2 separate regions of the Homo sapiens genome follow, and region 2 is linked to region 1. The links come from fine-mapping of genetic effects on gene expression. A gene starts in region 1. The other region holds a variant in brackets. All regions are shown on one strand. Distances are from middle to middle.

What was found.
Region 2: its variant is fine-mapped to the expression of GRIN2B in tibial nerve (GTEx, PIP above 0.99).

Annotation. Positions count from the first base shown.
Region 1 is chr12:13,978,433-13,983,811 of GRCh38, forward strand. GRIN2B (glutamate ionotropic receptor NMDA type subunit 2B) reads right to left here and starts at 3,170. Exons shown (of 14, transcript NM_000834.5): 1 at 2,910-3,170; 2 at 1,496-1,924.
Region 2 is chr12:13,947,542-13,952,920 of GRCh38, forward strand. All of the region lies in intron 2 of GRIN2B (glutamate ionotropic receptor NMDA type subunit 2B), which reads right to left. Among named protein-coding and RNA genes, the nearest start is that of GRIN2B, 31 kb to the right of the region's middle. The variant A/G (reference allele first, on the strand shown) is at 3,114.

The DNA.
Region 1 (5,379 bases):
ACCTAGAGAAGGGGGATAGTGAATTTGGATTACATCTATCCTTTCTGGACAATGAAGAACTATCATCTACTGTCATGTTGAGCGACAAAGATCTTTCACCTCTTCCCCACATCCCTTTGGTATTTTGGATTATCAAAGAATTGTTGTTTTAAAATGCCAGAAAAAAAAATTGTGTGTGTGTTGGGGTGGTGGTAATACTTTTAGGAAAAATAATGATGCTAATGATTCTGCTACATGTTTTTGGAGATCTTTATCCCAACCTGATCCCTGCATTTAGACGCCTTCAGAGTTCAGGGACATATGGTCAGTGGAGCAAGGAAAGGAGCAGCCCACTCACCATCATGGCCCTCCAACCCATGAATGATCTGATTCTCTCAAGAGTTGTCTTGGATTGCATGAGTGACTAGCTGAAGAGTCATTAGCTAAGTCTTTTCCATTTCTCCTGCTATTTCTCTTCTCAAGTACATTAAAATACTGCCTAATCACATTTCACATATTGTAAAAATTGATGAAAGGGAAAATGTTAAAGTATTAATTCCATTTTTGAGGGTACAAGACTAATACATGCAAACAGCACATCTCTTTGTTTAACACAAAGACTCACGTGTCGAATTCTGCACCCCTTCCACATGCACAGCATTTTAGAACTCTGCAAGATAGCCATTTTGCAAGAGTGTAGAAGTAACAGTTTGCTTGGAGGATGTGTGGGTATAAATAGATATGTAGACAGAAGGAGAAATTTACAGCTCAAAAATAATAGCACAGGAAAAAATACAAATTAAAAGCAGAATATTGACAGAATTCCTCCTTTCCGAGCTTAAGATTTAAGTCGTTTAACCTGCAGCATCCTTCAATTCCAGGTGTTCTGAGACCAGCCCGATCCCCACCTAGACCTACCCCTCTGCAATAGGCCTCCCGGGATCTCTGGGCCCCTTGTCAACCCTTTAGACAGCAAGTGGATTTCAGGGCAACAATCACAGTAATCTCAATCATTATTTTTATCTGTTTTAAAGGGCATAGAAAGGATGCCTAGAAAGGTAAAGACAGGAGACAGGGAGAGAGGCATGAAGGTGACAAGGGGAATAAAGCCAACCTGAAAAAAAAAAAAAAAAAGGATTTCTAGATTCCCATAAAAATCGGAGCTTTAGTTCTGGGTGAATAAAATGCTATTTAACTGGAAAATCACACAGGTCTCCTGGCTGGCTATGTCTATAGATATAGATACATTCCCCTGATGCCATCCAACATCTTTTGTGCCTGCATACATCCACCCCCACTGCCCCCCAAAAGCCCAAAACCTGTTAGATGAGAGAAGAAAAAGAAAAAACATGGGAGATTTCCTTCTTTGTAATAAGCCTTTTTTCCCAAAACAGCATTATTTTCATATCTTGTGACCTTTTCTTCCAAAAAGATCCACTTGAGGGACTCGAAGAGATAGATAAAATGAGGAATCCCTACCCCAGGTGAGGAAAAAATAAAATAGAATTTGCCCTACCTTGGTTTGTAGAAGCCAAACCTCTAGACGGACAGATTAAGGGAGTGAGCATGTTGGGAATGTCCAGTCCCTTCTTCTCGCTTGCATATCCACATAAGAAAGACGAAGGATAAATGAACGGAAGATAATTTAAAATCCAATTTAGCGTAAATTTTGTTTTAATCTTGTGTCTTGAAGAGATGCAAATTCAAAAAAAAAAAGATTTAATTCAAAGGTAATTCAGGGTATGGAGAGCAGCTCACAATGCAGAATCCAGAGTAATTATTCCGTGTGCATGTGAGGTTAGTGGCTGGAATAGATTTTTAACGCTTCTTCTGGCAATTACGGTTTTTGGTTTTTGGAGCGTTAGTGGAGGAGGCTCTGTGTGGAGAAGCTGGGGGCCGGCTCCGTCCCTCGGTGGAGCATGGTCATTCCCAAAGCGTCCCCTTCCTAAGGGGGAAAAAGAGGCGGTCAGGGCTTGATTCGCGTGTCCCCCGGAGGGTGAGAAAAATGCATTCCGAAAAAGATATCAATTCGTTTTAAGGAAAGGGGGGAGGAAACCCCGCATTTCCCACAGAGTGCACACGAGAGGAATTGAAAACAGCTGGTACCGGTCTATAAATAATTCAGAAAAGGTCTGGCTATACCATTCCTGGGACAGGCACGGATGAGAGGTGGGAAAGCCAACCTGAATGGAAGAGGAGAGAGGGAGGGAGCGAGCGAAGGAGGGAAGTGGGAAGGAAGGAGGAAGGGGGGGAGAAGCGGCACCATACAGCAACACACACTCACACACACGCAGAAACACAATTCCCACTTAACTCGCCAGCGAGTGCGGCCCCCAGCCCCATCTGCATTGCTGCTGACTTGTCTCGCTCGCTCTCCCCATCGCCTCCAGCAGCAGCGCCGCCTCCCACCCCGGGCTTGTGCTGAATGGGTTCTGATTGTGCACGGGGTGCACACTGGGCATTTCTTGGAAGGGGCACACTGACGCGCGCACACACGCCCCCGACGCGCACGCGCCCCGCGCGCACTCACACTCACCCCCGCGCACACTCACCCCCGCGCACACTCACGCTGCCGCCGCGCTGAGGTGCAGCGCACGGGGCTTCACCTGCAACGTGTCGATTGGACGGATGGGCTCGGCGCGTGGGTCCGGCCCGGGGCGCCGCTGCCCTGCCCCTCTGCTAGGTGAAGGGATGAAACCCCCCAAAAGACCAGAGACAGCCCTACCCAGTCACAGCACCCCCTCCCCCACAAAAAAAAAAAACCTTTAAAAAAGCCACGTCCAAATTAGCAAGTGCCGGGTTCTGCTGGATTTCAGAGCTTTACCTCATGCCAGATTCGTTCACGATTTCACGGCTTCGACCCTTTATCTGCCTGACACCCCCAAACCCCTACATTCAAAGGAGAGACTCCAAAGCCCATCTTTACGTACCGGCTCCGAGCGCCTCCGCGGTTGCAGTCTGCGGAGAGGGGTGGCCGGTGGCTGGGAATGGAGGGTTTTCCTTTCCTGCAAAGCAGGATTAATGATCCGTCTCGGGGGTTTTGAAGTTCATGACTCTTCTTTGCAAGGCAAAAGGATATGCATTCGGACGCCAGCACTACTGGATGGTGGTGATCAAGAATCACCCTTGACGAGCACTCTCGATAGAGCGAAGCCCCGAGATTTCCTAGAGGTGAAGAAGCCGGAGGAAGTGGTTTTTGAAAGGGGGTGGGGGGAACCTTCCTTTCTCAAAAAGAGGTGGGGGGTGGAGAGGCAGGAGCCCAGATTCCAGTTGGTGAGGATCGGAGCCGGGGGAAGGGAAGCGGGCGGGGGCAGGCTGTGCAAGTCAACCGCGCGGCAGCCGGAGAGGGAGAGCAGGAGGGGAGGAGGGGAGCGTCAGAAAAATGGGTATTAATCACCGGGGACGGGGGGAGGCGCGGGGAACGCAGGTTGCCTGGTCTGGATTTGGGTCTCACACTCAAAAACGTGCCGCGCACACACACACAGACACACACACACCCCCTACCTCGCACACCCTGACTCCGGGGGGAGGAGAAACCCACGAAGCTGGGGAAGATACTGCTTCTGCTCCCAGGGGCGGGTGTGAGCGCGCGTGTCCTCTTTCTCCACACCCCCCACCCCACCCCACCCCCAAGCCCCTGCACCCCCTCACTCCTCTTGCTAAGACTCTGGCGGAGGCAGCTTCCCACGTCATGTGCTGGGGAAGTGGGGTGGTAAGGTGGATGGAAGGGGGACGGAAGGGGGAAGAAGCTTAGCCCGAGTCCGTGGCGCCTCCTCCCGGCCGCAGCGGGGAACAGCACCGACGGAGAGCGGCTGAGGGGCGAGGGGAGCTAGACAGTGCCCCCCGTGGGCGGCCCGCGGGCTGCGGAAAGCATCTCCAAGGCGGAGCTGTAGTTCGAAATTGAAGACCCTTGCTGTATTTTCCATAAATCAGCCTGTGCTTCCTACGAGCATTCTGTGTGTCGGACGCAGTCTGGGACCGGGTTCTTTCTTGCCTTCAAGGAGCTTAAGATCTATCTGAGCACACGAGGCTGACGCCTAACACAATAGAAAACAAAGCAAAGCAGGTGTCATTCGTGGCTAAATTGTATAGTATGGACCATACGCGTGCTTTTCTGGCTGCTAGTGAAGGCGGGAGGAGTTTGACATTTTTTATTAAAGTGGATCCTGTTATTTAAATGCCTTGAGAAGAGAAGATGGTGAGGCCCGTGAATAATCCCTAAAGGAAACTGGATTTCCTGGCATTTACAAACCCACCCTCTTTGAAAAGGCAAACATCCATTCATTTCTCTTCCTATTGAACTCTTTTATATTTTAATAGCCCTTATCACCACCTGTAGTATTGTTTACTTTTAACATTAATATTATTGTATATGCATCATTTTCATTCTCATCCATTGTCTTTTCAAATATCTAGAATACTACAGTGGTGGAACATTTTCATATTGGTTATATCATGGGCTTCTCACCAGCATTCCTGAGAAGCGGCCATACAAACGCACAGGAGAGAAGGCTGTGTGAGTGGATATACCTAGTGGCTTGGAACTTTAGTCTGTAGAAGCCATCAGATATGTTTTTGCTGTCCTGTAGACCAGACTACTCATACTTCTGAGCTACAGTAATTCTTCTGTTTCCTGGTTTTTCTCAGGCTTAATTTTTGAATCTAACATATTTAACACACACGAACACATAAGCATTGTGTGAAAACACAAATAGAGTGTGTTCACATGCAAATTATTCCTTCTCAGTAATGGTTTTCTATTTTTCTAAGAGTTAGAACTGATCTTTCACTACTTTGGGGAAGTGTCGAAGCACCCCAGAGTTGCTGTGCCCTCTTGATACACAACAGCCAACCCAAGCCCCTCTAATAATTTGTCTCCAGGGTTTTCAAGTTCACCTGCCTATGGGCAGGTTTGCAGTTGTTAGAACGCCGATTCCAAGAGGAGTATAGAATGCAGAAAGCAAGAACCTAATAGAGATTTCCTGAAACACTCTTCCCTGAATTTTCCAGGAAAATTACCGTTACCTGGTCCATTAGCTTCAGAATAACATCCAAGCTCACTCAAGGATCTTCATGGGTTGACCTTGAATCTACTTTTTAAATTTTTATATTTTTTATTTCTGGCTCATAGCCCACGTTCCCCTTCCTATCCTCAGTCCCTTCACCAAAATTATACTATTCTTCCCTATTTTCTTTCCTTTTCCTCCCTACCTGAACCCTGTTGCAATTCCATTCCACCCTGTTCACTTTTCCAAGTGTACAGGGAAGAATGAACGCTCATACTTCCTCCACCTAATTGAGTCCACACTCCTCTTCAGTTTCCAGCTCAAGTCCCACCTCCTCTGGGGATATTTTTCAGTCAACCAAGCCTGAATTGATTTCTGTAAAAATTGCAAGAAT
Region 2 (5,379 bases), 31 kb before region 1:
TGGTTTTCCCATACATCCAGTAGCAATCCTATCCACATCCTGCAACAGAATGTTTCAACATCCCCATGGGTGTTCTACATTGTATGTATTCTTAGATTTTCAATAATCTGTTCCATCCTCTCCTTTTCAACTTGAAACCCTAGCATCAAAAGTGGCTGTTGATCTGATAGGACCCCACCTTTGGCTGTGGCTCATTTTCCAGCTGCAGTCCAAATCTTCCAGTGATGACACGAAGCTATCACCATGGCAACCATCACTGACACACAGTGCAAAGCTGAGGATGAGGCATGAGTTGTTCTCCAACTCACTTCCATAACGTTAAACCACGCTGTAGGCTTTAACCTACTACCCTCTGGGTTTACTGTCCTGTCCCAGAACCAGAGAAGCAGCCCCCCATTTTTAAACTGAAATTGTTCTTTCACTCTCCTCAGGACCTCTCCATAAGAAAACAATGGCAAAGGTGACCATATGGCCACCTAGGCCCTGAAAGTATGGTATTTACTCACTCAAAACCCAACAATGTTGCAGTTAATTGTAGAAGTGCCATTGGGGAAGGATAAGATGGTATCTAAAAGTAGCACATGCATAAATATGATACAAAATGTCAACTTGTTGTCTAATAGCTACAAGAAAGAAGGTTCTGGGGCAAATATAACCACATTGCCTCACAGAAAAAGCCTAAAGAAAGTCTCTGCCAGGGGGGATCCTTGGGGTAAATGCTTTCTTTTCATAAGGATCAATCCAACCCTGCCCCATATGTTTAAATGCTAAATTCAAAAATGGGCTGCGATGAAAGAACAACAAACCTTTGTTAGCCCTCTGGGGGGACTAAAGATGCTGAGATGTGTTCCTTGCTGAAAGAGCACTGTAAATAGCAAGGAAGTCCTATTTTTCTTTGCTAGAGATAAAGCACAGTCTCACAGATTTGGGTCTTAGATTTTTTTATATATATCCTCTCAAATTCATTTTTGCCAGAGTCATCCGGTTCTGCTCTGATGCCAAAGATTTCAACACGGTTGGTGGTGGCAGAGCCAACACTGGTGACTTAACAAAGACTATTCACTCAAAAGCCACATTTCTGAAGAGAAGAGACCTGGATTCTGCAAGGAGCAACGGTACCTCTAATTACAAAATTTCTGAAATTCCCCTAAATGTAGGTTACATTAATCTCATCAGCATGCCAAGGATGGTGTGTCTTGATTTACTTTTGAGTAAAGACTCAAAAGTTGTGGTGCTGCGACACCCGGAATGTAAGGAAGGTAACTGGTGACTAATGGGAATTCCATGGACAGATGGGCCATTTAGAGTCACTGGCATTGTGGTCCCTCTAAACTGATGGGCAGCCACTCAGAAAACCCAGGAACCACAAACTCACCAGACTACTGCAGACCGCTTTTTCTCTGAAAGAACTAAGTTCTTGGGAAAGGAGGGAAAGCAGTCTTAAGAGAGTGTTCCCAGAGGTTCTACTACTTTCCCTGTATCACAAGTCCTCAGCAGGGGCAGGCTATTAGTCCCTGCAGCAGGTGATAGCAGAATTATCTGTGTGGTTGCCGGACTTTGGAGGGACCATTGCTTCAACCCTAAGAGTGCCCAGAGATCCAAATCAGGGCTGAATCCACTGCCTGAAGAACCCATAGTTCCTGGACAGAAATGAGGGGAGAAGGGAGATGCTGGTTTGCATTTCAGCCTGGACAGCAAGCAAACCTCAGCTAGGTAAGAGAGTTATTAGAGAAATCTCAGAAGATTCTGGTTGCTACAGAGACGTCTCAAACAGAGTTTCCAATCTTTCCAACTCCTAGGCCCTCCCACATCCTCCAGACCCTCTGAGATCAAAGGCAGAAACTTTCCTCTCCCTCTTCCTGCCTCTTCTCTCCAGGGTTGCTACAGGTTTCCAGGACCCTTAATCTGAACACTCAACCAGAGGGACCACAGGGCCTCCTGGAATCCTTTAAGTGTGGAAGCTGCCGTGGCATTCGGCAATCAGCTCAAAGCCACCGACATAAGGTGCTTCAACTGTGAGGGACTCTATGGCCTCATGATCAATATAACATCTACACTGCCATTAGCCTCTACAGGAGGGTGTCAGGTACCATGTGGTGGACATAGCATCGTTAACAAACGATTTCATTTACATACATGTTCTAGTATTACAGAGGAAGATCACAAACCACGATGCCAAGAAGTTGCATTCAATGTAGTGTATATTGATGGGCCATGAGACAGAGATGGATACAGCCTAAAGGGAATCAGCAAAATACTCACTTTTAGATATGTACCAGGCTGTACTGTGTTTGCAGTACAGAAGCCTGCAAGAACCAAACCAATCAAATTTATGTTTATTATGAACTTTATGCACGTAAGCACTGTGATTCTCCAAAATATACTAAATTCATTAAGGAGGAACTCAAAAGAGAGCAACAAAAAGTAGTAAACATTATAGAACAGGCACTTAAATTACCTTTGATCATGATGTCGATTACAGAACCTAAGAAGAAAAAATAAGAGACAACCAGAGGAAAAAGAAAAGTTACCACTTTAAGGGGAAGATATTGATCAATTTGCTATTTCTACTGAGGCTAAGGAATGGTTTTATACGCAGAGGGAAAATCATCGTATTAATCTATGGAAGAATAGCCAGTCAAAATAGGGGACCACACACTAGAAGTTACAAAAGAGGTTATAAAGTATTCTTCCTTGTTGGAAATCATTTAAACAGAGTAGATGAATCAACCCAAGAGTGTTTACTGAGACCCCAGCCCAGGCTCAGCCCCAAAGGACTGTAGCATTGGGGTTGTAAGTGGGAGCTCTGTAGTCAGATTTACATGCCTTCAAATCCCAGTTTGGTCACTTATGGGCTACACAACCTAAGGCAAGTTATTTCATCTCTTTAAGTTTATTCCTTATTTGGAAAATAAGGATGATAAGAGTACTTATCTCATTAAATTATTATGAGGATTAAGTGAGAACATACATGGAAAAGCATTTAGCTTGCTAGGATGTGCTCAATAAATTCTTGCTATTATTGTTTCTTATATTTGACTCCTTGCCTATCTAAAAATTACTGGCCTAGGTTTCTCATTTGCCAGATCACAATGAACAATGAAGAAATAAAC[A/G]AAAGGAGTGCTGAGATGCCTCAGATTCCTGCACGACAGTAAATGCCCTTTGCTCTCTGAGCCTACTCTCATGCCTCTGACTCATGCTTTGGGCACAATTCCTTAAAAAGAGTTTCCACTTCAAGCTTATGGAGAAAAATAAGTTTTAGGTAAAATATTACTTTGGTAAAGCAGTTCAACCAAGGGCCAGAATTTTAATACCTCCAGAATCCCTATCAGAAATAAATTCAACATGGAATGACAGGCCTAGCCACCTACAACATAGAAAAAAGCTAAGTTTGACCAGGGAAGAGAAAAATGAAGGACAAAATCTCCAATCCAGAAGTGGTGCTTCTAGAGATAAAAATTTCTTACACCTCCCACTCCCTTGTGAACATTCCAAGAAGAGCAAGGCCAAGAGAGAGTAGTGATATGGCCTGCCAGATAAAATACAGGACACCCAATTGAATTTGAACTTCAATGATAAATATCAAATACTTTTAGTATAAGTATGCAAATATTACAATATTTGAAACATACTTCTACTAAAAAATTATTGTTTATTTGAAATTCAAATTTAATTGAGTGTTCTAATTCACTAAATCTGACAACCCTAGATATAGTACAGGGAACCTCCTGTATGCAGACTGACTGAGGCCAGAAATGAAATAGAAACACTGAAAAAACCCAGAGTGATCCCTGAGCAGTCTCTGCCTGGTAGACAAGCTAGAGAGCATTCATTCCAGGGAAGGATAGGAACCCTGCAGCCTGAATAAGAAAATCCAACGTAAAAACCATTTAGCCTAAATGTAAGGGTGAAGAAGTCCCCTCGGGCAAATTAGCTTGTCTTGTTAACAGGATATTCAAGTCAAATGATCCAGTCTGTTTGTAGAAAGCTTACTGCATCCAAAAGCCAAGCACATGCAATTCATGGTTGGTAGAGCTGTATAATTGCACCCATTTGTCAAAAATCTAGGAAGACTTCATGGACACTTAGCGTCCATACCACAGGCTCCCACACACACTGTATTTGCTTCCATCACAGCACTCACCACACAAAATATGATTACCAATTTATCTGTTCATCTCTCTCTCTAGACTGTGAGCTTCTCAAGAGTGGAGACAAGGTCTAATTTATCTGTGAAACCACAGCCCTAATAGCAAATGGCCACCATACTATATAGCTGGTTAACCTGTGTGGCTTCTGTAAGGGAATTCACAGGAAGAAGGGGATAAATAGACTTTATTGGTAATAAGAAAGAGAAGAGGGGAGAAAAAGAAAGAAAAAGAAAGCTATCCTTATTAATTGCTTGCAATAGATTAATACATTTATCTGTACAGGTCTTATACCTAAGCACAATTGATATATCAAAAGTGGATCTGTGTATATATAGCAGTAAGAGAGAAAATTATTAAAGATTTTTATTGGGTTTTTTTTTGGTTGGGGGTGTGAAGAAAGAAGTCAACGTGTATATGGTGATATAAAAATAAAAATGTATATAAGGACCTTAAGGATGTGTCTATATGTGCATGTCAGGTGCCCACACGGAATGTGTTAGAGCTTCCGTAAAGGAAGTGAGAGATATTAGAAAAAAGACTCAACCCAATTCTCTTTCTAAAAATATTCAGATCTCTGAAGCACTCGATTCTAGAATCAGTTCTCAATAACAGTCCCCGTTGTGTTAATGAAACTGTAACTCATCTTACCCACTCACCTTTATACAGTGTCCGCAGGAATCCACAAATTAGGATATAGTTAGCAACGGTCCTCCTGAATGGCATTACAGAAATGAAACTAAAATACTCTGAAAGCCTAATACTGCTTCAGGAAAATCTCCACCCTGTTTAGGAGCCCTGTGTTCTATCCCATGGAACCTCTCCTCCTGTGTTTCCTCTCTCCTTCCTGCATTCCTCCGGTGAGAACCTCCCTATCTGTACTTCCCCTCTCTATCACTTGCCCCCGTCTTTCTTTTTCATAGATTGTTGAAAACTATTTAAAAGATCCTGAATATCAAAGTCTGTCTTCTTCTGGCCATGTATTTAAGGTATATAATAGCATGAGGTTTCCAATCCCCCAGGAGCTGGGCATGAAAATAAAATGTTAGAACTTCTATTTATATTTATTTTTATCTCACCCACTTTTAATTTCTGTTTTTTTGCGTGCTTTATAATGAACACAACATATTAGACAGTATACACATATAATTATGTACTAAATAAACATGCTGGTCATTGGCATTCCAGTTCTGTAGGGCTGCATAACAAACCACCCCAAAACTTGGTAGCA